Linked DNA regions of Homo sapiens. The protein of the gene in region 3 purifies or fractionates together with the protein of the main gene of each other region. This does not show direct contact. Each region holds a gene or a part of one and is shown on either strand. Other genes may lie near its edges.

The links.
Region 1: the proteins of DDX23 (region 3) and TMEM37 fractionate together in Homo sapiens (co-fractionation; one large-scale study listed by BioGRID). This does not show direct contact.
Region 2: the proteins of DDX23 (region 3) and PRPF6 purify together in Homo sapiens (affinity purification with mass spectrometry; 5 studies listed by BioGRID and IntAct, with this or other methods). This does not show direct contact.
Region 4: the proteins of DDX23 (region 3) and ERCC6 purify together in Homo sapiens (affinity purification with western blotting; one study listed by BioGRID). This does not show direct contact.
Region 5: the proteins of DDX23 (region 3) and IK purify together in Homo sapiens (affinity purification with mass spectrometry; 3 studies listed by BioGRID and IntAct, with this or other methods). This does not show direct contact.
Region 6: the proteins of DDX23 (region 3) and RSRC1 purify together in Homo sapiens (affinity purification with mass spectrometry; 2 studies listed by BioGRID and IntAct, with this or other methods). This does not show direct contact.
Region 7: the proteins of DDX23 (region 3) and PAXBP1 purify together in Homo sapiens (affinity purification with mass spectrometry; 3 studies listed by BioGRID and IntAct, with this or other methods). This does not show direct contact.

What each region holds. Positions count from the first base shown.
Region 1 is NC_000002.12:119,434,677-119,439,632, reverse strand, and holds the end of TMEM37 (voltage-dependent calcium channel gamma-like subunit), read right to left. Parts: intron 3,343-4,956; exon of another isoform or gene 3,248-3,342; intron 2,745-3,247; coding exon 2,193-2,744; 3' UTR 1,129-2,192; downstream 1-1,128. UniProt on the Homo sapiens protein: Thought to stabilize the calcium channel in an inactivated (closed) state. Modulates calcium current when coexpressed with CACNA1G.
Region 2 is NC_000020.11:63,987,139-63,991,443, reverse strand, and holds part of PRPF6 (pre-mRNA-processing factor 6), read right to left. Parts: intron 1-4,305. UniProt on the Homo sapiens protein: Involved in pre-mRNA splicing as component of the U4/U6-U5 tri-snRNP complex, one of the building blocks of the spliceosome.
Region 3 is NC_000012.12:48,828,687-48,832,445, forward strand, and holds the end of DDX23 (probable ATP-dependent RNA helicase DDX23), read right to left. Parts: coding exon 3,736-3,759; intron 3,501-3,735; coding exon 3,392-3,500; intron 2,631-3,391; coding exon 2,456-2,630; intron 2,007-2,455; coding exon 1,783-2,006; 3' UTR 1,070-1,782; downstream 1-1,069. UniProt on the Homo sapiens protein: Involved in pre-mRNA splicing and its phosphorylated form (by SRPK2) is required for spliceosomal B complex formation.
Region 4 is NC_000010.11:49,456,199-49,459,579, reverse strand, and holds part of ERCC6 (DNA excision repair protein ERCC-6), read left to right. Parts: intron 1-345; coding exon 346-765; 3' UTR 766-3,381. UniProt on the Homo sapiens protein: Involved in repair of DNA damage following UV irradiation, acting either in the absence of ERCC6 or synergistically with ERCC6. Involved in the regulation of gene expression.
Region 5 is NC_000005.10:140,653,734-140,658,038, reverse strand, and holds part of IK (protein Red), read right to left. Parts: intron 4,102-4,305; coding exon 3,987-4,101; intron 3,524-3,986; coding exon 3,453-3,523; intron 3,359-3,452; coding exon 3,312-3,358; intron 2,211-3,311; coding exon 2,047-2,210; intron 486-2,046; coding exon 377-485; intron 1-376. UniProt on the Homo sapiens protein: Involved in pre-mRNA splicing as a component of the spliceosome. Auxiliary spliceosomal protein that regulates selection of alternative splice sites in a small set of target pre-mRNA species. Required for normal mitotic cell cycle progression.
Region 6 is NC_000003.12:158,539,702-158,543,577, reverse strand, and holds part of RSRC1 (serine/Arginine-related protein 53), read right to left. Parts: intron 244-3,876; coding exon 91-243; intron 1-90. UniProt on the Homo sapiens protein: Has a role in alternative splicing and transcription regulation. Involved in both constitutive and alternative pre-mRNA splicing. May have a role in the recognition of the 3' splice site during the second step of splicing.
Region 7 is NC_000021.9:32,751,092-32,755,396, reverse strand, and holds part of PAXBP1 (PAX3- and PAX7-binding protein 1), read left to right. Parts: exon of another isoform or gene 1-43; coding exon 44-167; exon of another isoform or gene 168-3,281; intron 3,282-4,044; exon of another isoform or gene 4,045-4,143; intron 4,144-4,178; coding exon 4,179-4,278; intron 4,279-4,305. UniProt on the Homo sapiens protein: Adapter protein linking the transcription factors PAX3 and PAX7 to the histone methylation machinery and involved in myogenesis.

The DNA.
Region 1 (4,956 bases), on a different chromosome or scaffold from region 3:
CCCAAACCTTCAGGACAACAGCTAAAATAATATGATAAAGTCACCACGGAGGCCAGGGAAGCCCCAGGGCCCCCAGTCCCTTTTACTATCCCCCCTTTTACTACCCCCAACAGGGTGTGAGGGGGACACCCCTATTTTTCCTGCTCTTCCACACAGATGTCCTCGGCCTGAGGCAGACACAGCAGGAAATGGGGCATGATCCCATTTCAGAGAAGACAGGTCCACCAAAGCCCTGTGACTTGCCCAAGCTACTAAGCAAAGAGGTGGCGGAAGTTCAGTCCAGGGCCTTTGACTTCAAATGCCCATGCTCCAAGGCTGTGTCTGTGCTCTCCCTGCTCCCAGGCAGGGAAGGACAGGGGCCATCTGCTGCCCCTCTAAGCTCCTGGGGACTTCAGTCTCACCCTCCACTCTCGTTCTTGGTTCCTTTGAATATCTGCACTCCCTGCCCCCATGTGAGGATGAAAAAGGACTCCATTTTTGAACGCTTCTGCAAAACCAAACCTACTAGTGCTCAGGGGGTAGCGTTCTGGAGGGAAGTAGAGAAACTCCCCTCCGTGTCAAGGAAAAGGCATCCTGCTGGTGGGTGGGTCAGCTCTACTCCCAGCTTTGGGTGACCCTGGACAAGTGCATCCCTCTCTGGGCCCTGACTCCCCACCTCCATACATCCCCTCCCCGTGAAGAAACCAGGGGGTTACACATCCCCTTTGCAACTTGTAGATTGCTCCAGGTTCCCATTTCCCAGGCTAAGATGCCGCCAGTGTGGTTGATGAGCTCTGTACTCTGTAAAACTGAGCAATTCATGGAAACCTTTCCAGGATGATCTCCATGGACTCTGGGCACCTTGGTGGTTCAACCTTAAAGCCCATGGCCTTATATCCTACAAAGCAGACAGCTTCATGACTCCATGCATCCTGGAATAAAAAATTTAAAACATCACAATAGACGTAGGTATAGGCACTCAGCCCAGACCAGGAAAGGAACCTGCAGCAGTGACAAGACCGGGGCAGAGACCAAAAACCCATGCAATTGCTGGGAGCCAGAATTCAACAGGTGAGGGAATGGGAAGGAGTCAGTGTAGAATGAAATGGGCTGAGGGCAATAACATCACCTACTTCTGGGCAGAAAAAGGACTAGAAAGGGAGCACTTTAATGAACAGAAGTACAGACGTGCTGGCAAGGATGGAAATCTCCACTGGTTCCTGGCCCCCTTCACCTCCATGCATCCCCAGCATGGGTGTTAATCATTACCCAAGCTCTCGCTGTTCCCCCTCACCCCCTGCAGAGTCCAGCAGGTCTAGATACGTGCTCTTTGAAATGTGTTCTGGGATTAAAAATGGTGCCCTGAGGCTGTCTAACCCTCACAAAAGACAGACACATGCACACACGGGCCTTGGGGAGGGCTGTGTATTAGCAGTCAGGTGGGCCCTCCTGGGAGAGCTTGCTCAAGAACTCTTCTCGGAAGGAAACCCACCTTAAGGTAGGGTTCTGATAGGCAGAGCTCCCAGAGGCACAGCCAGCTGCTAGAAGATGGGGTTATCCAGGGTTTGTAAGGTTTAAACAACGGGCAGGGAGGCAAACCGAGTCAAATGGTTTGGAAACCTACTGTGTGCAGGGCATTCTGAGGGAATCCTGAACTCTGCCTCTTTGGCATGACCAAAGCTGAAGCCAGGGACATACATACGAAGGCCCTTTGAGCTGGTGGAAGAAAGTCCTAGGCACTGATTGGACCCTTAGCTGGAAGAATGATCCATTCTTAACAACCCTGGGAGCCCCAGGGATTCTGCAGCCCCTATCCCAGCACGTGTCAATGAAACAGGCATGAACTATCCTTGGCTGTGCAGCTAGCTCAGGTACCAGTTACCCCTGTGCTTCCAACTGTATTCCAGTCCAGGGAAGAAAATTCAAGAAGGAGTTTTAAAATGTTTTTTTCTTCCTCTAAAATCAACATCTGGCTAAGCCTGTGCAGTTGGTGGCACTGAGGCACCCTCCTGGCCTCTGGCCCTGCAGACCAGGTGCAGAGGCCCCCGGGCCATTTCTGGCTGACCACCCACAAGTTATCGGCAAACAGGCAGCCGTTTCAAGGCCCTTGTCCAACCCAGCCCCACCAGAGGCCACATGCTGGAAAAGTCCCATTTTGACCATATTTTCTTGTGGAATCTGATGTCCCTGGAGGGGGCCTAAAATTTCCACGGTCATTCCCAGGGATGGGTGATGCTGTTGATGTGAAGGCCGCTGATGGCGTTCAGGAAGAGGAGGAAGGAGGCAGTGAATTCGCACCAAAACATTAGGGTGAAGCCGATGAGTGTGACTTGGTTCCTGAGGAGGATCACAAAACCCAGGAGCCCGCCGGAGGAGAGGACGAAAGACACCAGGAGGAGGATGGAACCCATGACCCACTTGCACTGTGAGTGTTTGTCCTCGCACAACTGGGACACCATGAGGAACTCCAGGCCAAAAATGGCGGCCACCACGGCCAAGGCGCCCACGCTGCGTACCAGGCCCATGCCCACGGCCAGCCCGGGCACATGGGCCTGGCCCAGGTCTCTGAAGCAGATCGTCTGGTTGGTGGTGGTGCAGAAGTGCCAGAGCCCGAAGAGGCGGTCCTCAGCCAGGAGCCAGTGCCCATCACAAATGGAGACCGAGGACAGGACCACAGCCAGGGCCACACACGTGATGATGAGGGTCCGGATGAAGGATTCAAAGAAGGACCGGCGGGGCTGCCTTTGGCCCAAAGGCCTCTGGGCCTGGAAAAAACCGTAGGAAGCACCCTGTCAGCCACAGCCCTGCCACGCCCCCAGGAACCTCTGCAGGGAAGACCCCTGAGCCCTCCATCCTGCTCCGCACTGTCTTATTCTCTGCTTGGTCTCCTGTGAAGCCCGGAACAGACCAGACCCACCGTTTGGGGGGAACCCTTCCTCCCTTCCAGACCTGTGAGCATTTACCATCCAGTATTCACCAGGCACTAAGAGCTTCCTGACCTTTCTTTCTTTTGTGATCTTCAGAGTGGGTGAGAAGTCCAAACCGACTGGCAAATCTGAGTCAGTTCTGAGTTCAGAAAACCTGTCGTGCCTGCATCCCATGACCTTGAGCATGCAGCCTGCCTCGGTTTCTTTGTACATAAAACAAGAATACGGCCTGGCAGAGTTGCCAGGGTTGTACCAAGCACTGAGACATTAGCACACCAATACACAGTTCTGTTTCCCTCCATCTCCCCAGGATACACGATTTTGTCCTAATCCCCACCCACCTGATGATTCGGGAGCTGTCCACGTTCAGCCCAGGACTCTAGATTATTGCCTCGTTTTTCTTGGTACTGAAAGTGACATTTGCATCTTGCCCTCAGACCTGTGCGGCCTGTACCCTACCCAGAGCTTGCCAACCCCATTGTCTGCTCCTGCAGCTTCTGGGCATGGGAAGGCCATTGCAGCTCTCCTCCACTTCCGGTTCAGCCCTGGAAGGAGGCGCCCCCACCCCGGTCTCCTGGCAAGCCAGGCTAGGTGTCCAGTGAGGTGTCTCATCTCACAGTTCAAGGACACCACCCGGGCACTGCACCCAAGCCCTGACCCAGAAAGCAAAAGAAAGACTTCAGGAACTCTTTACACAGCCCACAAGCCTCTCACAATCCGCTCCGCCTCCCCACCCAACCTCAGCTCCCAGCACACTCCCCTCTCCCCATGTCTAGAACTTTCTTTCCTCAGATGACTGGCCCTTAAGCCTGTAGTGGCTCTTCTGCAGCTCCTGCCACCCCTCCAGGACAACACCTCTTCTCCATTCTTCATGTCTCAGCTTAAAGTCTCCTCCACAGAGAGTGCTTTCCTGCCCACTCAACCCAGAGTCAGGCCCCTCCTGGTATTCTGTGTCAGGCACCTGTTCAAATTCTTCACCATTCTGAGGACAGTTTGTAGTTACATATTATTTCTGTCTCATTCCAACACTGTGTGCTCTGGGAAGGCCGCCCCCTACCCCCACACCACCACATTCTGTGTTTAGGCACTGCTGTGTCCCCAATACCTGGGCATTCAGTGGGTGCTCAAGGGAGAGCTGTGAGATAAGTCAAAGGTCATTGGCAACCACTGTCACTTCCGTCTGAAGCTCCTTTAAACTGAGTCTCCTGCACAGTCATACATTAAATGACCTGCTTTGCAGTGTGTCTAGAAGCTGCCCAGGTTACACCTCGGTTTGGGAGGTATGCAAAACAGGCACGCATGACGGTCACTGCTAGGACCCAGGAGAATGGAGCAGTGAGGAACATGGGGTGTGTCCTATGCCATGGGCAAATGGAGGCTTCCTGAGGCAGGTCTGGGCCACTCCTCTCTGTGTGAGACATAAAATAAAGCCCTGCTTCTGGGAGACTCCTGTGGTCAAAGAGCCCAGCAAGAGTATCTGCTCACATGCCCCAGACACAGGAGCTACCGCTAATTTCAACCCCAGGGATACAGGAATAAGGATGCAGTTTGCTTTCAGCACCTCTGCCTTAAGTAGGATCCTATTTTATTCTTAAACCTATGAGGTTGATAAAGTAGGAAGCTCCATGGTGGGTGTACAGAGAAGGAAACTATGCAGAGGGCAGGTGACTTGCCTGAGATCACTCACCTAAAGCACAATGAAGCTCTTTATGGCTGCCCAGACAATTGTATGATATGCAGGAGGTGGAATCCGTTCAGCGAATAAATACTGACTAGGGCCTTCTAAGGACAGGGCCTTTGTGCTAGGGGCTCAGTACTGAGCCCTTACAGCCCTCCCTACATGGGCTGTAAGCTCCTGGATGGGAGGGACCGCACTTGGTCTGTCCCAGCACGCTGCCTGGCCAGGATTCCAGACATGTCCCAGAACAAAGGGGAGGAATTCCCTGTGCCCCATGCCCTCTTGGTGAGGAAAAGGTGCGTGCAGAGGGATGCCTCAAGGGCCATGCCAGAGCTAGGACCAGCCTGGGTCCTAGCTGAGATGAAGGCAGCC
Region 2 (4,305 bases), on a different chromosome or scaffold from region 3:
TTTTTGTTTTGTTTTTGTTTTAGAGACACGGCCTTGGTCTGTTGCCCAGGCTGGAGCACAGTGGCATAAGCATAGCTCACTGTAGCCTCTAATTCCTAGGCTCAAGCGATGCTCCTGCCTCAGCCTTGGGAATGTAGCTGGAACTACGGGCATGTGCAACTGGCTAATTTTAATTTTGTTTTTGTAGAGACAGGGTTTCACCATGTTGCCCAGGCTGGTCTCGAACTCCTAGACTCAAGTGGTCCTCCTGCCTTGGCCTCCCAAGGTACTAGGATTACACATGTAAGCCACTGCACCCAGCCTGATGTTTTTTAAAATGCATTAACCCTGGAGGTTCCAATCAATTTTTAAAATGTAGGGCTGAGTGTAGTAACTCATGCCTGTAATCCTAGCACTTTGGGAGGCCAAGGTTAGGGGAGGCAGGTGGATCACTTGAGGCCAGGAGTTCAAGACCAGCCTGGGCAACATAGACAAAAATTAGCTGGGTGTGAGCCTGGCGTGGTGGCTCAAGCCTGTAATCCCAGCACCTTGGGAGGCCAAGGCAGGCAGATCACAAGGGCAGGAGTTCAAGACCAGCCTGGCTAACATTGGTGAAACCCCGTCTCTACTAAAAATACCCATCTCTACAAAAATCAGCCGGGCGTGGCGGTGCATGCCTGTAATCCCAGCCACTTGGGAGGCTGAGGCAGGAGAATCACTTGAACCCTGGAGGCGGAGGTTGCAGTAAGCCGAGGTTGCGCCATTGCACTCCAGCCTGGGCAATAGAGTGAGACTCCATCTCAAAAAAAAAAAAAGAAAAAAGAAAAATTAGCTGGGTGTGGTAGCACGTGCTTGTAATCCCAGCTACCTGGGAGGCTGAAGCAGGAGAATCGCTTGAGCCAGGAATTGAAGGTTACAGGGAGCTATAATCAAGCCACCGCGCTCCACCCTGGGTGACAGAGTAAGATCCTGTATCCAAAAAAAAAAAAAAGTGAAATGCAATGCCATTCACGTTTAATTACTATAGGTATAAAATTTATGCACAATGATTTAATAACGAGCTTCTAAAAAGATGTCCAGGCCAGGCACATTGACTTATGTCTGTAATCCCAGCACTCTGGGAGGCCAAAGGATATGGTTTACATCTGTGTCCCCATGAAATCTCATGCTGAATTATAATTCCCAATGTTTGAGGTGGGGCCTGGTGGGAGGCCACTTGAGTCTTGAGGGCAGACCCCTGATGGCCTGGTGCTGTCCTCGAGGCAGCAAGTTTACATCACGTAAGATCTGGTTGTTTAAAGTGTGTGGCAAGACTGGGCACGGTGGCTCATACCTGTAATTCCAACACTTTGGGAGGCTGAGGCGGGTGGATCACTTGGGGTCAGGAGTTCAAGACCGGCCTGGCCAACATGGTAAAACCCTGTCTCTACTAAAAACACAAAAATTAGCCAGGTGTGGTGGCGCGTGCCTATAATCCCGGCTACTTGGGAGGCTGAGGCAGAAGAATCACTTGAGCCTGGGAGACTCAAAAAAATAAAAAATAAATAAAATTCCAGAAGAACTATATTTTACTATTCTAAAATTATCTTCAAAAAATAAAACATTCTACATACATCACAGGAAGTTATGATTACATGTATAAAAAGCAACAGAGCTGGGCGCAGTGGCTCACGTCTGTAATCCCAGCACTTTGGGAGGCCGAGGTGGATGGAGCACAAGGCCAGGAGTTTGAGACCATCCTGGCCAACATGGTGAAACCCCGTCTCTACTAAAATACAAAAACTAGCCAGGCGTGGTGGCAGGCACCTGTAATCCCAGCTACTTGGGAGGCTGAGGCAGGAGAATTGCTTGAACCCGGGAGGCAGAGGTTGCAGTGAGCCAAGATAAAAAAAAGCAACAGAAAGAGGAAATGAGCCAAAATGTTAACTGTTACTTTCTAGACTTATGAATAAATGTTATGCTTTTACCCATACTTACTCTTATTTTCCTAATATTCTATAATGAGAACTTTTTATTTTTTTCCTTTTTGAGACAGTCTCTGTGGCCCAGGCTGGAGTGCAGTAGCGCACTCTTGGCTCACGGGAGCGAGCCACCACACCTGGCTTCCGTTCGTTGCCTGTGCTTGTGGGGTATTACTCAAGAAATCTTTGCCTAGTCCAATGTCCTGTAGAGTTTCTCCAATGTTTTCTTCTAGTAGTTTCAGCTTGAGGTCTTAAAGTCTTTTAATTTGATTTTTGTATGTGGTGACAGAGAGGGGTCTAGTTTCATTCTTCTGTATATAGATATCCAGTTTTCCCAGCACCGTTTATTGAAGAGATTGTCTTTTCCCCAATAAATATTCCTGGTACATTTGTCAAGAATGAGTTCACTGTAGAGGTACCTATTTGTTTCTGGGTCCATTCTGTTCCATTGGTCTATGTGTCTGTTTTTCTGCCAGTACTATGCTGTTTTTGTTACTACAGCTCTGTAGTATAATTTGAAGTCAAGTGTTCCCCCAGTTTTGTTCCTTTTGCTCAGGATAGCTTTGCCTATTCTGGGTCTTTTTTGGCTCCATGTACATTTTAGAATTATTTTTTCTTTTTCTTTTTTTTTTTTTGAGACGGAGTCTCACTCTGTTGCCCAGGCCGGAGTGCAATGGCACGATCTCAGCTGACTGCAACCTCTGCCTTCCAGGTTCAAGTGATTCTCCTGCCTCAGCCTCCCAAGTAGCTGGGATTACAGGCACCTGTCACCATGCCCAACTAATTTTTGTATTTTTAGTAGAGATGGGGTTTAGCCAGGCTGGTCTCGAACTGCTGACCTCAAGTGATCCACCTGCCTCAGCCTCCCAAAGTGTTGGGATTACAGGCATGAGCCACTGCACCTGGCTATTTTTTCACTATCTGTTAATAATGTCCCCAGTATTTTGATACGGATTGCATTGAATCTGTAAATTACTTTGGGTAGTATGGATATTTTCTTTTATTTTAAGATGGAGTCTCACTCTGTTACCCAGGCTGGAGTGCAGTGGTGCAATCTCAGCTCACTGCAACCTCGACCTCCTGGGTTCAAGCGATTCTCCTGCCTCAGCCTCCCAACTAGCTGGGACTACAGGCGTGCACCCCCACACCCGGCTAATTTTTGTTTTTTGGTTTTTTTTTTTTTTGAGACAGAGTCTTGCCCCGTCACTCAGGCTGGAGTGCAGTGGTGCAATCTCAGCTCACTACAACATTTGCCTCCTAGGTTCAAGCAATTCTCTTGCCTCAGCCTCCTGAGTAGCTGGGATTACAGACGTGTGCCACTACACCCAGCTAATTTTTGTATTTTTAGTAGAGACAGGGTTTCACTATGTTGGTCAGCCTGGTCTCAAACTCCTGACCTCAAGTGATCCACCCACCTCACTCTCCCAAGGTGCTGGGATTACAGGCGTGAGTCCCAGCGCCTGGCAACTTTTGTAATTTTTTTAGTAGAGACAGGGTTTCACCACGTTGGTCAGGCTGGTCTCGAACTCCTGACCTCCAGTCATCCACCTGCCTCGGCCTCCCAAAGTGCTGGGATTACAGGCGTGAGCCACCGTGCCCGGCCATTTTTGTATTCTTAATAGTGACAGGGTTTCTCTTTGTTGGCCAGGCTGGTCTCAAACTCCTGACCTCAGGTGATCCACCCACCCTCAGCCTCCCAAAGTGCTGGGATTACAGGTGTGAGCCACCACACCTGGGGGCATAGCCTGCAACTTTAATCAATTTGTCAGTTCCAATAGTGTTTTGGTAGAGTCTTTAGGGTTTTCTAAATATAAGATCATATCATCTGCAAACAAGGATAATTTAACTTCTTCTTTTCCAATCTGGATGCCCTTTTATTTATTTCTCTGGTCCGACTGCTCTAGCTAGGACTTCCAGTACAATGTTGAATCACAGTGGTGAAAGTGGGCATCCTTGTTGCGTTCCAGTTTTTCCCCATTCAGTATGATACGAGCTGTGGGCCTACCATATGTGGCTTTTTTTTTTCTTTGCGACACAGTCTCATTGTGTTGCCCAGGCTGGAGTGCAGTGGCACAATCTCAGCTCACTGTAACCTCCACCTCCTGAGTAGCTGAAATTATAGGCCTGAGCCACCACACCCAACTAATCTTTGGATTTTTAGTAGAGACAGGGTTTTACCATGTTGGTCAGGATGGTCTCAAACTCCTGACCTCAAATGATCTGCCTGCCTGGGCCTCCCAAAGGGCTGTGATTACAGGCGTGAACCACCCCATCCAGCTGTATATAGCTTTTATTGTGTTATGCTCCCCCCCCCTTTTTTTTTTTTTTTTTTTTGAGACAGGGTCTCGCTCTGTGGCCCAGGCTG
Region 3 (3,759 bases):
CTCATTCTTTTGCCCTGCATCCTGTCATTTCTGTTCTTGTCCCTCATACATCTTTGGAGAACCGGGCTCCAGACTTTGTTCCCTGACTCATAGCTGCCGCTTGTTAGGTTAGGGTTAGATGGGGAGAGACAGGGCACAGAGGACCTGTCTCCCCGGCTACTCTTGCCTTATGGCTCTAGTGTGTGACCTACAGAGCATGCTCCACAAGCCCCTGCCTCACCTCACTGTCATCACTAATAAACATCATGCACAGTCCCTCCGGCTTCTGTTCTGTCTGTGATGCGGCCCAAAGTCTGGTGGAGGGAAAGATGTGTTTGGGCCGCCCTTCTCTCAGAGGATCTGTCCAGCGGGAAGGGGACAAAGGCAGAGCTGGGGAGGCACTCCACTCCCAGGCATCCCCACTCCTCATGCCCAGGTGTCAAGAGGGAGACATCCAGCAGCACGGAAGGGCTTGTCCTGGGATGTGGGGAAGACGCTTGGTCACGGCTTTACAGTATCCTTGCGCCAGGCCAAAAAGGCCCTAGAAGCAGCTACAACTTGAACTCTATGTACTAGGCCAACTCTTTCTGTGGGGTAAGAAGAGCATGTGAACAAGAGGGGTATGGGGGGAGGACTGCAGCCCTGCGTTCCTCTCACCACAGCCTGATACAGCTGGGTCCACCCGTTCTGCACCATCCCCTCCCAGGAGCAATGGGTCCAACTAGGGAGCCACAAGCAAAGCTCCCGAGACCAGGCGTTGGGCACACAGCGGCAGAGTGGTTCCAACTGCCTCACCTGCCAAAATTTCACAACTGCTTTCCTTTCTCACCTTTGCCTAAAGCTCCCTAGAGGGTGTCCAGGCCAGGGCCACACATTACGCGAGGCTAGAGCAGGGGCGGAAGATGCATTACAGTCCTGCGTGGCTTCTGCATCTCCTCTCAAGTCCACCTACAGACTCAAGACTATCAGCAGAGACCCCTCTACTCTTCTCTTAATGTGGCTGTCTCTCATTTTCCAAGCCAACCCACCCCGCACCCAGTGGTGTCCCTCCTGCCAGGGAGAAGCTGGGAAGTTTAACTAGAACTAGATCTAACAGTCTTAATATTCATGTATTTATTCTCAGAACATACAAACTTATCTTCTCAGAGAATAGAAAACAGAGATTTCACTCAGTGACAAAGATGGACACAGCCAGTTCACCGTGTCCCCCCATCTACTTAGAAAATCCCCTGGGGGAGGGGATGCCTAGAGCATACAGCACCCCTTGGTGCGGGGCTGTGCACAGGTCTAAAGACTCTCAACTTCCTTTACCATCCAAACAGGAAAACAGCTGTCCAGATGACAGTAAGATTCCACTGTCTGTAATCCTCATGGTGCCAGGTCTCCTGGGGCATCTAGGGCAATGATGCTACTGCAGTTTATGCAGTTACACAGTCAAGTCTGTGCCAAAGGAGGTCCCATCCGGCGGCCAGGTTTCTGTTCAGTCTGGGGAGCAATGCCAACTGGCTGCCCCCATAGCCTGGCATGAGCTGATGGCCCAGTGCAATCCCAAAGCAAAGAAGGGCAGAACTGGGCCAAGAAGCTGTGGTAATTTGCTCTCCCTGCCTCCGACAGCGTCGTCCTCTCCTTTTGCAGCCCCACACGCAGGCCTCCTGACCTGAGGGTCTGGGCTAGGGAGTTGGATTGTTTTCCTAAGCCCCCATATCCCAAGAGTGAGGACCTGGAAAGAGGGATGTGAGGGTTCTGAAAAACAGGCATCAGGCAGCTTTGGAGATGCCCTCAGCCCACAGGAAGAGTGCTGTGTCAGGCAAAGATGGTCTCTTCCCGGCGCTTCTTGGTGAGGATGGTGCCTGGCTTATGCTGGGCATCTGGGTGGTTGGCTAGTTCGGGGGGACAGGAAGACACTGGGCTTTCCAGGATAGCTTGCTTCAGCTCGTAGAACACAGCAGAGTCCTCTTTTGTGAGGAAGGTGATGGCCACCCCACTCTTGCCTGCTCGTCCCGTGCGGCCAATGCGGTGGATGTAATCTGGGGAATGGGAAGAACGTCACTCAGCATAGCCCAGATGCCCTGGGGAGCCGTGTCTGATGCCTCCACTTCTAGAGGCATCCTTCCCACCCCATCTCCAAAGGCAGGAATACAGCACATGCTGCCTGAACCTGAGGCGCCCACAGTGCCCTCTCCAGGTGCCCATCTCCCCTGTCCTCCTACTGACTGTGGTCCCTACCACACTAAGACCCACAGCTGCCTAGCTTCATTCTTCACACTCCTGAGGACACAAGTGTCATCCCAGCTGCTGGGACAACAAACCCAGGTAAGATAAAGGACAGGAGTGCTTCTCATGGGAGCAAGCAATCCCAGACTTGGAACTGAGGGAGGCAGTAACAGCCTTCCATGGACAGCACCCTGACTTCCAGTGGGACACCATAAGGAATCTGACTTCACCCTGGATTGAAGCTGCTTTCCCTGGAACTTACCTTCAATATTTTTGGCCATATCATAGTTGACAACCATAGACACATCTTGGATGTCAATACCACGACCAGCCACATCTGTAGCCACCAAAATATCCTTGGCCCCAGCCTTGAGGTTGGACAACGCAAACTCTCGCTGCTCCTGGCCTTTTCCACCGTGCAGTGTGCAAGCATTGTACTGTTGGAAGAATGGTGAAGTGAAGAGTGAGCAATGCAATCAAGGAGAGACACAGGAGTTCAGAGGAATGGGACACAGATGAAGGGAGGGTTGGAGAGAGCAGCAGAGTACGAGAAAGGAAAGGAAACAAGAGAATGATTGCAGTGAAAGAAGGAGAGAACAAGTGAGCTGAAGAGAGGGATGAGAGAAAAAGGTGTGGTGTGGCAGGGACACACAGAGTAAGGTCAAAGGCAAAACAGCTGGGAGAGCGGTGGAGCCAGACAGATGAAAAGTCCTCAAAGAGAATTAGGGGCGAGATCAGGGTAGAAAGCAGGGATCAAGAAGTTTAAGGAAGTTGGAGAGCTGAGTGACAGGGACACACCCCTCCCCTCAAGCACCAGTGACAGGAGTAAAGGACACTGATTATCAGCTCCCTTCTGACCATATCACCTCCTCTCAACGTACCTAAGCAGTTTTCACCTACTCTTTTCTACATCCTCAGACTGCCAGGATATGGGTCTCAAACCTTTCCCTGGCTCCACCTCACCAGGATGAAGACCCAAGGCAGCTTTGGCTGGCATTACTGCAGCAGACAGGGGGTCCCAGCAATTGATTCCATTCTCTTTATTCCCTCAAACCACCCTTCACCCTGGTCCTAACTTGTTGATTGCTGGACAGGCTAAAGAAAGGGTGAGACTTGAAAGGAAGAGCCTAGGGGGCCCTGCTAGATTCAGAAAGCAGTGCCACAGAGGCTAGACTTTGTTCTCCCCTGCCAGACACACCCCCATCTTCTCCAGGGATTTGGCCAACACGTCGCAGCCCTTCTTCTGGTTGACAAAAATAATGATGGGTGGGTCAAAGCCTTGCTCCAAGATTGCCAGCAGCTTTTTCCTGGAAGGAAGAGGAGAAAAACAAGATGCATAATACCTCCCACTCCAAGTGAAATGCCCAACCCTCATCTATGAACACTACTTTCAGGGTCTTTAATGCCCATGACATTCTGCCCAAGAAAACAGCAGCTCTTCAACACAGCAGAGCAATTGCCCTGCCCTGCACCTGCACTAAAAAAGTTCTCAGAGCCATTTTATTCTCCACCCTGTTTCCCCTGGCTCAGCTGCCCTCATACCTCTTTTCTGACTCTGACATGAGG
Region 4 (3,381 bases), on a different chromosome or scaffold from region 3:
TGAAAGTGGTCCTGGGCCTCCTAGAGACAGATTTTCCTGAAACCTTGCCTGGAAGCCTCCACTCTGCCTTCCTGTCCACCACCATGTTGAGTGGTGGTGACTAAGGGAATGGCTTGGTTGCCCCCTCTTTATTTTTTTTTAGGAAACGGTCTCTTAACAGTGGGAGGATTTAGATACCAGACCCTCCTCCTTTCCCTTTTCATTAGGTGGAGTCTCAGTCTCACCCTGTCAACCTCACCACCCTGGCACATGTGTTGTCTTGTGACCCTTCACAGCCTTTGGGGAAGGAAGTGGGGGCATAAACTAGAAATTAAATATATCAGTATAGTGGTCTTCTTTTTATAGGATGGCATCATGAAAAAGGAGGGAAAAGATAATGTCCCTGAGCATTTTAGTGGAAGAGCAGAAGATGCAGACTCTTCATCCGGGCCCCTCGCTTCCTCCTCACTCTTGGCTAAAATGAGAGCTAGAAACCACCTGATTCTGCCAGAGCGTTTAGAAAGTGAAAGCGGGCACCTGCAGGAAGCTTCTGCCCTGCTGCCCACCACAGAACACGATGACCTTCTGGTGGAGATGAGAAACTTCATCGCTTTCCAGGCCCACACTGATGGCCAGGCCAGCACCAGGGAGATACTGCAGGAGTTTGAATCCAAGTTATCTGCATCACAGTCTTGTGTCTTCCGAGAACTATTGAGAAATCTGTGCACTTTCCATAGAACTTCTGGTGGTGAAGGAATTTGGAAACTCAAGCCAGAATACTGCTAAACAACATTGCTTCCTAAACTTTCAAGTCCCTTTTTCTAACGGGCATTTCTGATTATTAATTTATTATTAATAATCATGTTTGTCAATGGAAGTTGGCTGCACTTGATGTTTGTTTGCATGATGTCTACCTCAGAATTAAAACTTTAAGGAAGAAGAAACTCTTCTCTGAAAGTTAAAAGTTTTAATAATGCTAGCTAAAGGAGAAAATACTTGGATTGATTTTTTTTTTTTTGGCAATCTAATTATATTGTAAATCAGGTACCTAACAGTTACTCCTTGGAGCACATTTGTTCCTTTACCCAAAAGATGCTGTCAGGGAGCACAGTTAGAAGTTTGCAGAACAGAAATCTCAATATTTTTTTTTATTGGTGCTAAAAACAGGTCTTACATTCAGTCAGACCTGTTCAATAAGTTCATCAATATCTGATAACAGCATTATTTTGATGCTTAAACTTTAAACATTTATATTTACCATTTGCCACCCACAAAGGTCAGGTTTGTTATTTGTTGTTTGATAATTATATTAATTTTCTTGGAAAGATCCTCTTTTCAAGGTACTGGTAAATTGGTGAGTATTTTTATTAGTAAAGCATGAAATAGTATGGTAATAAATGATAAGACATGTATTTGTGGAAAGCTGTAGGGTATTCAGTTTACCCTGGCTTTCCTTTAAGCAGAGGGCATCTTTTTCTCTCCTACAGTCACAAAATGTGTTATCATTAAAAAAAATCAAATTAAAGCCAAAAGTAGGTACATAAAAACCACACACATGCATGCACACAAACATCACTGCAGCCCACAGCAGACCCAGCCGTTGTTACCATGAAGTGACACCACTCCAGGCCTCTCTTGTCTGCAGGCTGGCAGGCTGTCTTCTCTCCAGTTGCCTTCGTCTTGCGCCTGCCTTTGCATTCCTTGCGACGGGCTTTCTTGTTTCTGCGGTTTGGATTCCAGCCAAGGCTGTTTGTATCTCACTACTGTTTATGTGTTTGTGGTTCTGTGATGGTGTTGCTTTGATCCTCAGTTTATTTTCTTACCCATGTTTTTCTTGTTTCCTTCTCAGGATGATTTTATCATCTCATCTTTGAAGTGTTGTTTTCCGAAATTCATCGTATTCCTGAAATTTCTTCTTAGCTGTCTTAGTGCAGTTTGTTTCTTGGATTTGTATTCTCTGGCATGCTCTTTTCCTCTCTCTCATTTTTCTGTAGTATGCCTGCCCTCCTACCCTGCTATTTCTTTACATCTCTCTCATGCTTAACATGGATAGCTGTGTCCAGATCTTCTGTCTGCTCATCCATGTGACTCAGAGAGGAGGGTTCTGGGCAGGGGGGCCTTGCCGGACTGCATGAGAGGACATGAGTTTTGCTTTCTCTGCTCTAATATTTTGCTTAAGCCAAGAATCCTTTTCTTAGAGATGTTCTATATGATTCCTGTCAGGATTTTCTAGTTTTTTTTGGATTATAGCTTGTTCATTTCTTTTGTTTTTAGTTTGGTTTATATATAATGAGGGAAGAAGATGATTACATTATTTTTGTCACTTTGCCATCATTGTTTAGAAGTCATAGAAAGAATTTTTAAATAGGCCAATAAGTCTTAAACTTGAGTACTTGGCTTAGAAGAAAGTCAAAACTCCTTCCTTTTTGACTAAGTGGTTTGTTTCTGGGGAGCTCTTAATTTCTATTTTTATAATCATTAGCCTATAAGGAAATTGTGTCTTCCTTGTTCTCAGGGTGATCTGCTGACCTTGTTCACTCATGAAGCATTTGGGTATCATACTTATAGTGTCTGAAACATAAACTGTATTGAGCTAGACAAGGTATAGCCTCCTCTTCAAGTAGCAAATACTATCAAAAGCTATAATGCAGTAGGAGCAAGGTGGTCCTTGTTCCAGTTTTTGTCTCAGTTCTGCTGCTGATGTACCATGATCTTGGGAAGGTGGTGTCTCAGTGTGGAGATCTGACACATTGTTACCGTGCCTCCTGGCTGGAGGGACTTGGAGAACAATGCAGTTAAGTAGAATGGTTTTAACAATACAGAGAAATTTATTCATTTAGATAAAAATCTGATTTTTAGAACTTTAAAAGCTTTGTACAGTGTAAATAGATTTAATGTATTTAACATGCTTTATCAGCACAAATAAAGGATTTTAAAATTTTGTCAAAAAATTAAATGTTAATACTATCACCATTAAAAATGTTCAAGCAATAGTCTGCCTCCCCACCCCCACACCATCTTGCACCTGTTCCACAGCTAAGTACAGCCCTAGGTTTGGTGTGTATTCTCCATGCATTTAGAGAATCACATGACACAGACTGCTGCTATAATGTCATTTTCCCATTCTTCCTTTACTAATAAAATTTTTGAGTTTTACCTGGACGTCTGGCTGCTCAGCTTAAGACTACTTCTCAGCCTCTCTTATAGTTAATTGTGGCCATATGACTAAGTTTTAAACTTCCCAATTGGCCCTTTAAAGAAGCAGGGTATGCACTCTCCTTGACATTCCCCTTTCTTGCTGGCTGGGAGGCCAATGGGAGCTTCAGTAGTGACCTGGCATCTCAAGAGATGGAAGTGATGTGTTGAGGAAGGAGAAGTTGGCCTGCCAGTCTTGAACTGCTC
Region 5 (4,305 bases), on a different chromosome or scaffold from region 3:
GACAGAGCGAGACTCCGTCTCAAAAAATAAATAAATAAAATAAAATAAAATGTCGGTCAAGTATTAGAGCCTTTTTAGAATCTGTCTAGGTTTTCTGGTTTTCACCAAAAAATCTCTTTTAAAAAAAATAAATAAATAGGACATAAGCTACCCACTCTCCATCCCTCATGCTTCAGACCTGACCACTGCTTCTTAGGTAGGTTAAGGAGACAGAATCTGGCTGTAACTGTCTCCTTGCCAATGCTCCAGTACTCCCATTTTTCTCTGCTTCCCAGGAGCCTCTCAATATTCTGGAGACAGAAAGCTCCAGGAGACCTTGGTTTTATCCCCAAACGTCCTCTGTGGGTAAGGCTTCTCTCTCTAACCCTCCAGGTACCTTTATCCTTCTTCTTAAGCTTCTTGTTACGGGTTCCCTGCCTCAGGTATGAAAGGATCTGGGTCAGCTTGCTAATGACAATGTCATTTGTGGTCAGTGTGGTCTGGGCCTGAAAATACCAAGAAACAAGAATGTTAAACCACTCAGCAGAAATCTCTTCATTTATTCATTCATTCACTTAACAAACTAAAGACTGAATTACAATACAGTAGGTGAAGGGAGGGAAACGAAGTGCTGTGAAAGGATATTCCAGAGATAAAACAGCCTGCACAAAAGCCCTGCATCAAAATGAATCAAGACCATTCAAGAAAGTCAGGAGTCTAGAACATTCTAGAAAGGCCAGATGTTGCAGAGGCTCAAAGTCATGGTAAAGATTTTGCTCTTTATCCTAAGAATGAGATACTACTAAAAGCTTCTAAACTGTAGTGAGACAAAAATTTACATTTTATTTATTTATTTGGAGACAGAGTCTCATTCTGTCGCCCAGGCTAGAATGCAGTGGCACGATCTTGGCTCACTGCAACCTCCACCTTCTGGGTTCAAGCAATTCTCATGCCTCAGCCTTCCGAGTAACTGGGATTACGGGCACATGCCGCCACGCCTGGCTAATTTTTAGTAGAGATCAGGTTTTACAATGTTGGCCCACCTGGTATTGAACTCCTAACCTCAAGTGATCCTCACACCTCAGCCTCCCAAAGTGCTGGGATTACAGGTGTGAGCCACTGCACCCAGCCAAACTGTATATTTTAGAAGGGTAGGGGAGGTAGGGGTGGTTAATAGGTACCAAAAAAATAGAAAGAATGAATAAGGCCTACTACATGATAGCACAACAGGGTGACTATAGGCAGTAATAATTTATACATTCTAAAACAACTAAAAGAGTATAAATGGATTGTTTGTAACACAAAAGATAAATGTTTAACGGGATGGATACCCCATTTTCCATGATGTGATTATTATGCATTATATGCCTGTATCAAAACATCTCATGTACCTCATAAATATATATACCTACTATATATCCACAAAAATTTTTAAAAAAATTCTCTTTAAAGGATGAATTATATGGCATGTGAATAACACCTCAATAACAAGATATAATAACAAATCAGAGTGGAAGTGCGGAAACCAGAGTGGAAGTGCGGAAACCAATTAGAAGCCTTTTTAATAGCTCCAGAGGACTGGCGCAGTGGCTCATGCCTGTAATCCCAGTACTTTGGGAGGCCAAGGCGGATGGATCACTTGAGGTCAGGAATAGCCTAGCCAACGTGGTAAAACCCAATCTCTACTAAAAATAAAAAAATTAACCAGGTGTGGTGATGAATGCCTGTAGTCCCAGCTACTTGGAAGGCTGCGGCAGGAGAATCGTTTGAACCTGGGAGGCGGAGTTTGCAGTGAGCCAAGATAGCACCACTGCACTCCATCCTGGGTGACAGAGTGAGACTTGGTCTCTAAAAAAATAGTAAGTTAATAGTTCCAGCAAATGATTATAGCTTAGACTGGAATGTTATTGGTGAAAAAGTGGAAAAGTGAATGGATTCAGTTGAGATTTAGGAGGTAAAAGTGAACAGCACTTGGTGACATGGTGGACAAGGGACACGGGGCAGAGGCCAGGCTGATTCCCAGGCTTGAGGCTCACATGATAGGCTCTCAGGATTCCATTCACTCACCTCCATGGTGGGGCAATCAGCCTTGCTGCGGATAAGAGTGGTGGGGATATCTGTGTCAGCATACTCATCATCCAGGTCTACCACATAGGCCATGCGGCCCGGCAGGAACAACTCATTCCGCTCATATGCTTTGCTCTTAAAAAGCATTCGGTAAACATTGCGGCCTACAATAAGGAGAAGAGCAGCAAGTAGCCAGGATCTACAAGAACAGCTGTCACTTATGTGCTTACTCTGTGCTAGCCACCATGCCAAGTGCTATGCAAGCTTTGCGTCATTTAATCTTTGCAACAGCCCTATGAAGTGGATATTATTATCCTTTTTACTGATAAGAATACTATGGCTGAGATTTAAGTAATTTACCTAAAGTCATGTATCTACTAAGTAATGGAGCAAAGAATGGAACCAGGCCATGTAACTCCAAAGCCTGGGCTCCTGTCCACTCTTCTACATTGCCTCTTCAAGGGCACTATGCACCTGTATTGTATTAAGTCCTGTGAGGAAGAAGGATGAAGTTTAAGGTAATATTGATGATGATGGAAAAAACAGCTCTACTACCTGCTCAATATGATAGGCATGTTATAGATTTCATTTTTCTTCATCCCTACAATAAAGTCATGTGGTAAATAGTAACCCAATTTTTACAGATGAACAAACAGCAAAGTCAGTTGCCTAAAATCATACACTTAGTGCTGTTTCATCATCAAGGTTTAAACTCAGGTCTCTCTGACTCCAAGTTTTGAACTTTTAATCACTAACCATGTTACTTCTTTTAACTCATAAGCCCCAAACTGAAAAATCTTTCAATCTACCTGAGGAGACATAAATGACATATGAAATAATTAAATCTATGTCTGAGTCTTATTAGAGTATTTTATGGGAGTTAGTTGTTTTGGGGGCAAGAAAGAATCCCAGCTCTTTGGGAGGTCAAGGCAGGAGGATCACTTGAGCCCAGGAGTTTGAGACCGGCCTGGGCAATACACAGAGAACCCCATCTCTGCAAAAAATAAAAAAAAAAATTAGCTAGGTATGGTGGCACATGCCTGTGGTGCCAGCTACACAAGAGGCTGAGTCCAGGAGGTCAAGGCTGCACTGAGCCATGATCACACCACTGCACTCCAGCCTGGGCGATTAAGTGAGACACTGTCTCAAAAAGAAAGAAAGAAGAAAGGAGGTTGGGGGAAAGGAGAAGCATATCCTTCCCAGAGCATTAAATTCCGTACAATTCATCCAGAATGCATAGTCACTAGTATAGAAACTGTACTCACCCAGACGTGTTTTAAATTCAATTTTATTTTCAGGATCCTCATCTTTCCTGAAAAGACAAAAAAGTTTTATTTTTGCTAAATGTGCTCTAACTTTAGGTCCCACCTTTCTAAATTCTCAACCTTTCCATAATATTTACTTACTTGGTTTCTTTCTGGGGCTTTTCCATCAGTTCCTCTTCCTCTTTCTCTTTGCTGGCAATCTCAGCTCGTACCTAACAGGAAAGCAAGCAGGGTTAGGACACTCATTTTATATATTTATTGAACATCCACTACACCACACTGTACCAGGAACTAAGAATATAATATTAAACATGACAGATATTGTTCTTACTCTAATGGAGCTTATAGCAGATGAGACAGACAAATTAAACAATTTCAACAAAGTACAATAACTGCTGTGGTAAATGAAACAGAAGGGCTATGCAAAGGTACAGGAAGCAGGAGGTGAAGGGAAGTGCTTAACCACACCTGGGTGATCAGGGAAGGTTTCTCCAAGGAAATAAAATTTGGCCTGATACTTGAAGGATGAGTAGCAATCAGCTTTTCAGAGGGGCCATCTTTAGCCCTTCTTCTACTCAGTCTGAACTCTCAGGAATCTCCCTCCTCATCTTGCCAGACCCATACAAGAGCATTCAGCACGACAGTATTACTCCCCACCTGACCACCAGGACTCACCTTTTGAAGCAGAGCAAAATCCAAGCCTTTCACCAAATGGGTGTGTTCCATGTCACCACCCAAGAATTTGGACTCCTGGATCAACTGTCTTCTCTTCTCTGCAGCTGATTTGTCCCTGTATAATGAAAGAGGCCACATAAGAACAGTACTGTCCAGGCGTGGTGGATCACGCCTGTAATCCCAGTACTCTGGGAGGTCAAGGCGGACAGATCACAAGGTCAGGAGTTTGAGACCAGCCTGGTGGATATGGTGAAACCCCATCTCTACTAAAAATACAAAAATTAGCTGGGCATGGTGGTGGGCGCCTGTAGTCCCAGCT
Region 6 (3,876 bases), on a different chromosome or scaffold from region 3:
CTCCTTGGTGTTAGCACAAAAGGATAACAGATTGAAATAATTTCAGTAAATTAGACTTCAACTGACATTCGTAAAGTTTAAGGATATTACATTTGGATGGGCCAGGGAATTGTCATCTTGGTACTTGATAGCAGTAGGGATGCTGGTAGGATCTATTTCTTTTTCAGTACTGGGTGGATCAGCAACTGCTGATGCTGGTCCTGATGTTGAAGTTGCTTGTTTCACTTCACTAGGTTCCACTGACTGAAAGAAACAACACATATTAATTTCAACACAATACACAATTAGAGTTTTACTTCAAAAATATTTCTGATTTTGAATAACAACTGTTCAATTAGTCTCCTTTGAGATGATACCCATCTCCAAAAAGGCCCTACTTTTTGTATTTGTTTGTTTTAGAAATACAGTTATTTTATTTTTATATTTGTTTGTTTAGGAATAACTATATTTAGGAATATAGTTATAGATATATAGAAATAGAATATAGGAATAACTATATTGTATTTGTTTTAGGAATAACAAATAGAAAAATGCTGAGAAAATGTCAATCATTTCTTATGATAAGCACATTTTTCTTAAGAAATTGGTACTTACGTGCCTATACTATTGAAATATACATATATTTCATATATCTAAATTCTATTAATCAAAACAAGCTTACAACAAATATCCAACATTTAGTTGGCCAATTTAGGTATGAAAAGTAAATTCAAAGGTTATCTTTAGAAAAATAGCCTTATTGAGTTATAGAATTCATATACCATACAATTTACCCTTTTAAAGTACATAATTCAATGGCTTTTCACATATCCATGGAGTTGTGCAATTATTACCAGAATCAACTTTAGAACATTTTCATCATCCCCCACAAAACCTCATACCATTAGCAATCATTCCCCATTCCTTCCAACCTTTCCATCCTAGGTAACAATTAATCTTCTTTCTCTATGGATTTGCCTATTCTAGACATTTCAGATAAAAGGAATCATACAATATGTGGTCTTTCATGACTGGTTCTTTCATTTAGCATAATTTTTTCTTTTGAGACAGAGTCTTACTCTGTCACCCAGGTGGGAGTGCAGTGGCACAATCTTGGCTCACTGCAACCTCTACCTCCTAGGTTCAAGTGATTCTCCTGCTTCAGCCTCCCGAGTATCTGGGATTACAGGTGCACACCACCATGCACACTCGGCTAATTTTTGTATTTTCAGTAGAGACGGTGTCTTGCCATGTTGGCCAGGGTGATCTCGAACTCCTGTCCTCAAGTGATCAGCCCGCCTTGGCCTCCCAAAGTGCTAGGATTACAGGCGTGAGCCACCGTGCCCAGCCACATAATGTTTTTAAGGTTCATCCATGTTGCAGCATGTATCAGTACTTCATTATTCTTTATTGCTAAATAATGTCCCATTGTATGGATCTACCACATTTTATTTATCCATTCATCAGTTGATGAACTCAAAGGTTGTCTCGGAGCTACTTAAAATATTAAAATATATATATAAAAGTTTGAAAAAAAGGTACGATGTATCTTTGGCAAAAAATAAAACTCTAGGATTTCTTATACCATCATGCAAACCATAGACTCCCAATTTATTCCACCTTTACTGAGTATTCACCAGGTGCGATACACTGTACCAAGTGCTGGGGATACAACTAATAAATCATTGTTTCTGCCTTGAAGGAGCCAGCAGAGTAGTGCTTACTTAGTTACATTTCAGTAGCTTCTTCCCTAAGAAAGAAGGCCAAGGAGTGACTGATTAGCAGTAAGGTTACAGGGATAATATGAAATGGATTAGATCAGAAGCTGAAATTAAAAAGTAAAATTAAAAAAAAACAAGATGAATAGGAGATTGTTATGTAGCCTTTTTTATACCCATTTGTTCCACACCTATTGTTTTTCAATTTCCATTTATTTTAACTTATCTATAATTCTGAACATTTCACTTCTCTGAACAAAGCCAAAAACAGATGTCACTAAGAAAAATATACAGAGGATAAAATATGCATGAATTAAACTGTTCTTAGGTTAATTTGTTTTAGAGTTGGAGATCCATTTATTTAACCAGTATTTATTGAGCACTACTAATTGCTAAGCACTGGGTACACAGGCAGAATCAAATAGATATGGTTCCTGTCCCAAGTGGCAATTATATGTTGCTAATGGAGTTGACAGATTATAAACAAATAAATTCCAAAATAATGCATAATCACAAATTGTAGTATGTGCTATAAAGGACTATACAAGGTGCTGACAAAGAATGATGGGGATCAGGAAGGGAAAAACATCTACTTTAGATTGGGTGGCTAGAGATGGCTTCTCTAGGAGGTGAAATTTAAGCCCTGAAGACTTAGAAGGAGCCAGGCAGGTGAAAAGGAAGAATGGTTCTCTGGCCAGAGGGAAAAGACAAAGATCCTGAGAGAGAAGGGCTTGGTGTCTTTGAAGATCAGAAAAAAGGCCAGAGGGGCTGGTGTATAGTGAGCAAAAAGACAGTGAGACACTGCAGGCCAGAACTTGGGGTATTTCTTCCTTAACACAGCCACATCACCACTCTGCATGGGTATCACTTCCCAGCACCACAGCAGGAAAGTGCCCTCATACAGAAAGCTGGGTAACTGTGGGGCTCACCTTTTATTTCCCTTCTCCAAAGGATCACCCTCCTGAGCTGCCTATTGTTACATTCCTGAAAACAATGTCTTACACATCTTGTCAAGTTCTATAGCTGTTTATGGTGGGAGGGCAAATTTGGTACCAGTTATTCTGTAATGGTCAGATGGTCAGTAAAGTCTAATTATTCTTGAAAAATATTGTTTTGGCTGCTGAATGGGTCCTGGACTAGATAAATGCAAAAGGAAAATCAGGAAGAACAACCAGAGGGCTACTATAAAAGTTAAAGAATGAGATGATGATGTGGATTTAAATGGTGGCTGTGGATTGTGAAGAGGAGACAAGTTATGAGCTATTTTGGGGATGATGATATCAAGATCCACTTTTTTTTTTTAAGGCATGTGTTTTATTCAATTAAAATACTCTAATTTTTATTCTAATGGAAGCTGATCAGCATTCATAGGACAGATTTATTCCCTCATGGACAAAAGGGGTAGATATCTGAGGGATAGATATCTGGGCAGTCATGTATGTTTAGGAATTCTTACAAAGTAAGAGAAATCTATAAATTATTTTCAAATGTTAAGATGCTTATGACTACTAAATCTAACAATGATGCCAGTGTTAATGATAATATTAACTTTTATAGACATTTAAATAAATATTTATTCAATTTGTTTTGGCAGCTTTATTCTCATATTTTGGTGTCAGCAATTTTTTTTGCCAAGTCTCAAACATTTGTATGTCTCCAACACACTGTGCCTAGATGGTTTGTGGCCCTAAGTGATATTATACTGACCCTTTACACAACTGAGAACATTTAAAAAGCCCAATATTCTGCACAAGTGCAAGTGGGAAATACGCTAATCCAAGAGGTTCAAGACATTGATTTTTGGTAGTCTATACTGCCTTACGGGGACTGTAAGAGCATATCATTCTGCGTATCTTAGCCATGGCATGATAGGGCTTAGCTAGGAGACACTTTTCATGTTAAACTGCCTTAAAAATATGTGCAGTGCTATTATTCTAGTTATCAAAGATGTGGATACCACCTCTTCAGGTAGCAGAGATAAGATTCTACCATATAAACCAAGCAATCTCATCTTGTTTTTACGTACACAGTACATTAAGATTTCTTTGAGAAGTACTTACACATAATAGAAGGTGAAGCTCTCAGAGGTTAGATCAGAGCATGGAAGTTATTGTTTAATAACGGGCAATTAAAAATTTGTAGAGAGAACCACTAATTGCTTCTTTATTTAAGTGAGAAA
Region 7 (4,305 bases), on a different chromosome or scaffold from region 3:
AGCTGAGGAGTTTGGTGTTACGGAGTGTGTTGTATTTTTACAGGTGCCACTGATTAATGAACTTGAATCAGCAATACATCAGCTGTACAAACAGCGAGCTTCCCGCCTTGTCCAAAGACGACAAGATGATATTAAAGATGAATCTTCGGAGTTTTCAAGCCATTCAAGTCAGTCCATCTTGAAGGTTTTTATTATTCATTAAACAACCTTGTTTACTTAGTGCAGCCTAATTGAAAATTAGAGATCTTGGAGCTTTTTTTTTTTTTTTTAAAGAAACAATTTCCTTGCTGTTGTGTCAGGTAGATCTAAAAATGGTAACAGCATGTACTTGAATTGTGTTTAAGAAAATAGAGCTTCACAAAGGAGCTCAAAAACGTGCTAAGATTCTGTCAGTCTTCTTATTCTTTGGGCATATTTTTTCATTCTCCTTTAGAGTATAGAAAAGACATTATCCGTATTTTATGTTAAAACCATTATCTGTTTGGCCCTAATTGGTTTTTTCCCCCATTTTCATTCAAAACACCAATACAAATAAATGCTTTTGTTGATCACAGTGAAAGAGTTTGAGTTTAGGGACTGGGACATGTTGTGGGTAGGGGGAGGGAAGCTATAACTTAACAAATGACACAACTCCAAGATAGGAGAGTTTTGAGCTTCATCCTTTGGATAAAGCAAACTTTTTGTAATTTCTTTTTAAATGTTTCTCTAGTTTGCTTTATGTACTGTGTTTTTTAGTAAGTCAGTTGGTGCTTACAATTCTTGAAATTTTGTATACAAATGGATAGAAATTGAATTTGTACTTCCATCATTATGACATGTGTTATGGAAAACCAGAATTAGAAACCTCTTGTTAAATAGTTCAGCGGAGGTCCTTTAACTGGATGTTTTAAACCGTTTAGTTCCTTTTTTTCCGTTACCCTCCATATTCTTGAGTGCGCTAATAGGAATTTTCCTAGTGTGAATTCCTTGTGGTTTCTTTTGTCATTTCTTTGTTCCCTTTGTCAGCATTTCTCAAATGGAAGTGTGCATCACAATTACCTGATACTCGTTTAACATACAGATTTTCTGGTTCTATCCCCAGTGATTCTTACTAGGTCTTCAGCATCCAGAAATTTGCATGTTAAACAATCTCTCCAGGTGATCAAATGCAAATAGCTCTAATGTTATTCTTTCAGAAAGCAATGCTTTGCTATACATGGTCTCTAAGTCAGAGAGACATAGGATCCCTGAAAAAGCATCCTCCTATATGTCAGATGGGTTTTGGAGAGGCATAAACAGATGGTAATACGGCCCTCATAGCTGAGGTAGTCTCAGCTATGAGCCCTATAAATGGCTATGACCTTCTGTTTTTGCCACTGAATTTTAAATTGGATTATTGACATTAGCCACCTACATGACTCATGCATCCCTCCCAGATCACTTTTGATCCAGACAGAACCAGATTTCTGGGGCAGATTACAGGTAACCATTATACTACAAAGGGAGGTAATTTTCTTTTAAGTTAGATGGTTTGTGTGAGCTGTACATTTCATCAAATACCTTTTCCCATCTGTAATTTGTTCTTGAGAATATGGAGCTATTTACTTAGAGGGGATTTGAAAGAAGAGTTGAATTATTTATATTAGTTTGATTGAAAGTTGGAAAGAAATTAAAAGATACTGGGAAAGTGAAAAATACAGTCCTAGAGGGAGTATACATTAATTGCCAAAGATTTGAGGAAAATGACATGGGATGCTGGAGAATCAATTCATTTTCTGATCTGTTTTTTAAAGAAGTAAAGAATAGTCTGAAATTCTTCTGTTTAGATTTATAAGCACTTATCTGCAATTACTGTGTATAATTCTTACAGAAATGGAGGAGGCTATCACTTGAGTCATGTTAGACTCACCTGTCTCCTCCAGTGCACATTTTACAAAACCTATACATGCAGTGATGTTTTAAGTATAATGTTTTTTTTTTTTTTTTTTTTTTGAGACGGAGTCTCGCTTTGTTGCCCAGGCTGGAGTGCAATGGCGCAATCTCGGCTCACCGCCACCTCCGCCTCCCGGGTTCAAGCAATTCTCCTGCCTCAGCTACGCCTGGCTGATTTTTGTATTTTTTTTAGTAGAGACGGGGTTTCACCATGTTGGTCAGGCTGGTCTTGAACTCCTGACCTCGTGATCCACCAGCCTCAGCCTCCCAAAGTGCTGGGATTACAGGCGTGAGCCACCGTGCCCAGCCGTATAATGATATTTTTAAAAATATTTCTTGAAGGAAAACTCTTGAGTCTGGAATTATTTTTATAGTTTGGGATATTTTAGCTAATTCATCTGGGGTGTGTAGTGAACTCACATCTAGGGCTGGGAAATCTTTCTGGTTTAGTAATTTTTCATTGTAATTGATGCACTCAGGAACATACCTCCTTCCTAATTTCAGAGCTATTTTGAAATATGAATGAAAAACTCAGTAAAAAAAAAAGTCAACTTTTAAAAATAGTAGGGTCTGGTCAGGCACGGTGGCTCTCGCCTGTAATCCCAGCACTTTGAGAGGCCGAGGCGGAGTTTGAGACCAGCTTGGCCAACATGGCAAAACCCCGTCTCTAAAAATACAAAAATTAGCTGGTGGCGGGTGCCTGTAATCCCAGCTACTCAGGAGGAGGCTGAGGCGGGAGAATCGCTTGAACCTGGGCGGCGGAGGTTGCAGTGAACTGAGGTTGTGCCATTGCACTCCATTCTGGGCGACAAGAGCAAGACTCCGTCTCAATAAATAAATAGATAGATAGATAGTAAGGTCTGATAATTAGGATATTCTGAAGTAAGAGCTAAATTTTGGTTTTGTTTTTCCTGTTGCTGATTTTGGTGACACATCTCTGTTGATATCAGTAAATATCAATTGATAAGTAAAAAAATATGCAAGTCTTAACTTGGATGTCTTTCATCTTGCATGTGCTCACCTCCCTCCCCTCTCACCCAGTCGTTTGGGTTGTTTGCCTCCCCTTACTGTCATATCTTCATAGTGTGGAACTAAAACGTAGAAATGAGGGAAGTATAGTGGACAGATGTTTCCCCCACCCCTTCTTTTACCTAGGCAAGAGATTAGGGGAGTCTTTTTTGATTAAAGAGAGTAGGTCCAAAATAAAGACCCTGAAACACTAAAATCTGGGGATCCCCAACAAAAGAACTGGCTCAGTACCTAGTGATCCGACGGAGACACCTCTGTTAGACAGCTCCTGCCCACACACACAGCTTCCAGTCTTGCTCTTCTATATGAACAGGCAGTTAACGATGATCATAAGGACCAACCTGAGCAGCAGAACCAAAGGGACTGAGGAAACAGACAGTGCTGGTACAAGTATGCAAGTTTTCTGTAAACAGATTACTTTCAAACAGTTGGGAGCCCCAGGGAGATAATAGAAGGTATCCTACTCAACAGGAGTATATAGAATGCTGTAGAAGAGGAATATTGTAAGAACAAGAACTATCTCTTGAAAACTAAAAATATGATAACTGAAATATAAATTTAAATAGGATTGGAAGCTAAAGCTAGGAAATTACCCTAGAATGTTTTTTGAGAAATGGAAAATACGAAGACCAAAAAAATAAAATAAAACTATGCTGTGAAAGAGAAAGATTAGCATTTGAGAAGGCGGAAGTTGGTCCTGCTCAGATGCGGTTTTCAGATGCCTTATTCTAAAAATAGTGATAGAAAACAAATTTCTACAAAGCAAAATTACAATAAATTTATTAAACTCTTGCAACAAAGCTGTTTTCTTATGTCTTCCTATGTTTTCCTGCTGTCATTCAATGTGATGCTGAAGTTCTTCCTCCTTAAAAATGTAATATTTTTCCCTTTGCACAGGTAATTTAGAGTTTTAATTTATTTGGTCATCATGATAGCTATTCCTGATAGCTGTCCTGTTACTTAGACATAAAAATAGTGAGTAAGCCCAATTACATATTTGTAGGGTTGTTGAACTCTTAAAAAGAAATCACTTCTTTAATTTTTCTACTTTTTAAAATGGGAACGCAGAATAATAATGAAATTTGTTCTAAACCAAAAACCTACCTGGTTTACCAGTTATTGCAGAATCTTGCCGTTGAGATTAGCAAGCAGTCTGTCGTAATGGCTTATTCTGTGCAAACTCTTTCCTCAAGATTGTTGAAAGATGGCTTTTAATTTTAACTGTTGTTGTTTTGCAGACAAAGCTCTGATGGCACCAAATCTTGACTCCTTTGGACGCGATCGGGCACTGTATCAAGAGCATGCAAAACGTCGCATTGCAGAGCGGGAGGCCAGGAGGTAATTCTCAAAACCCTTGCTCTGGCT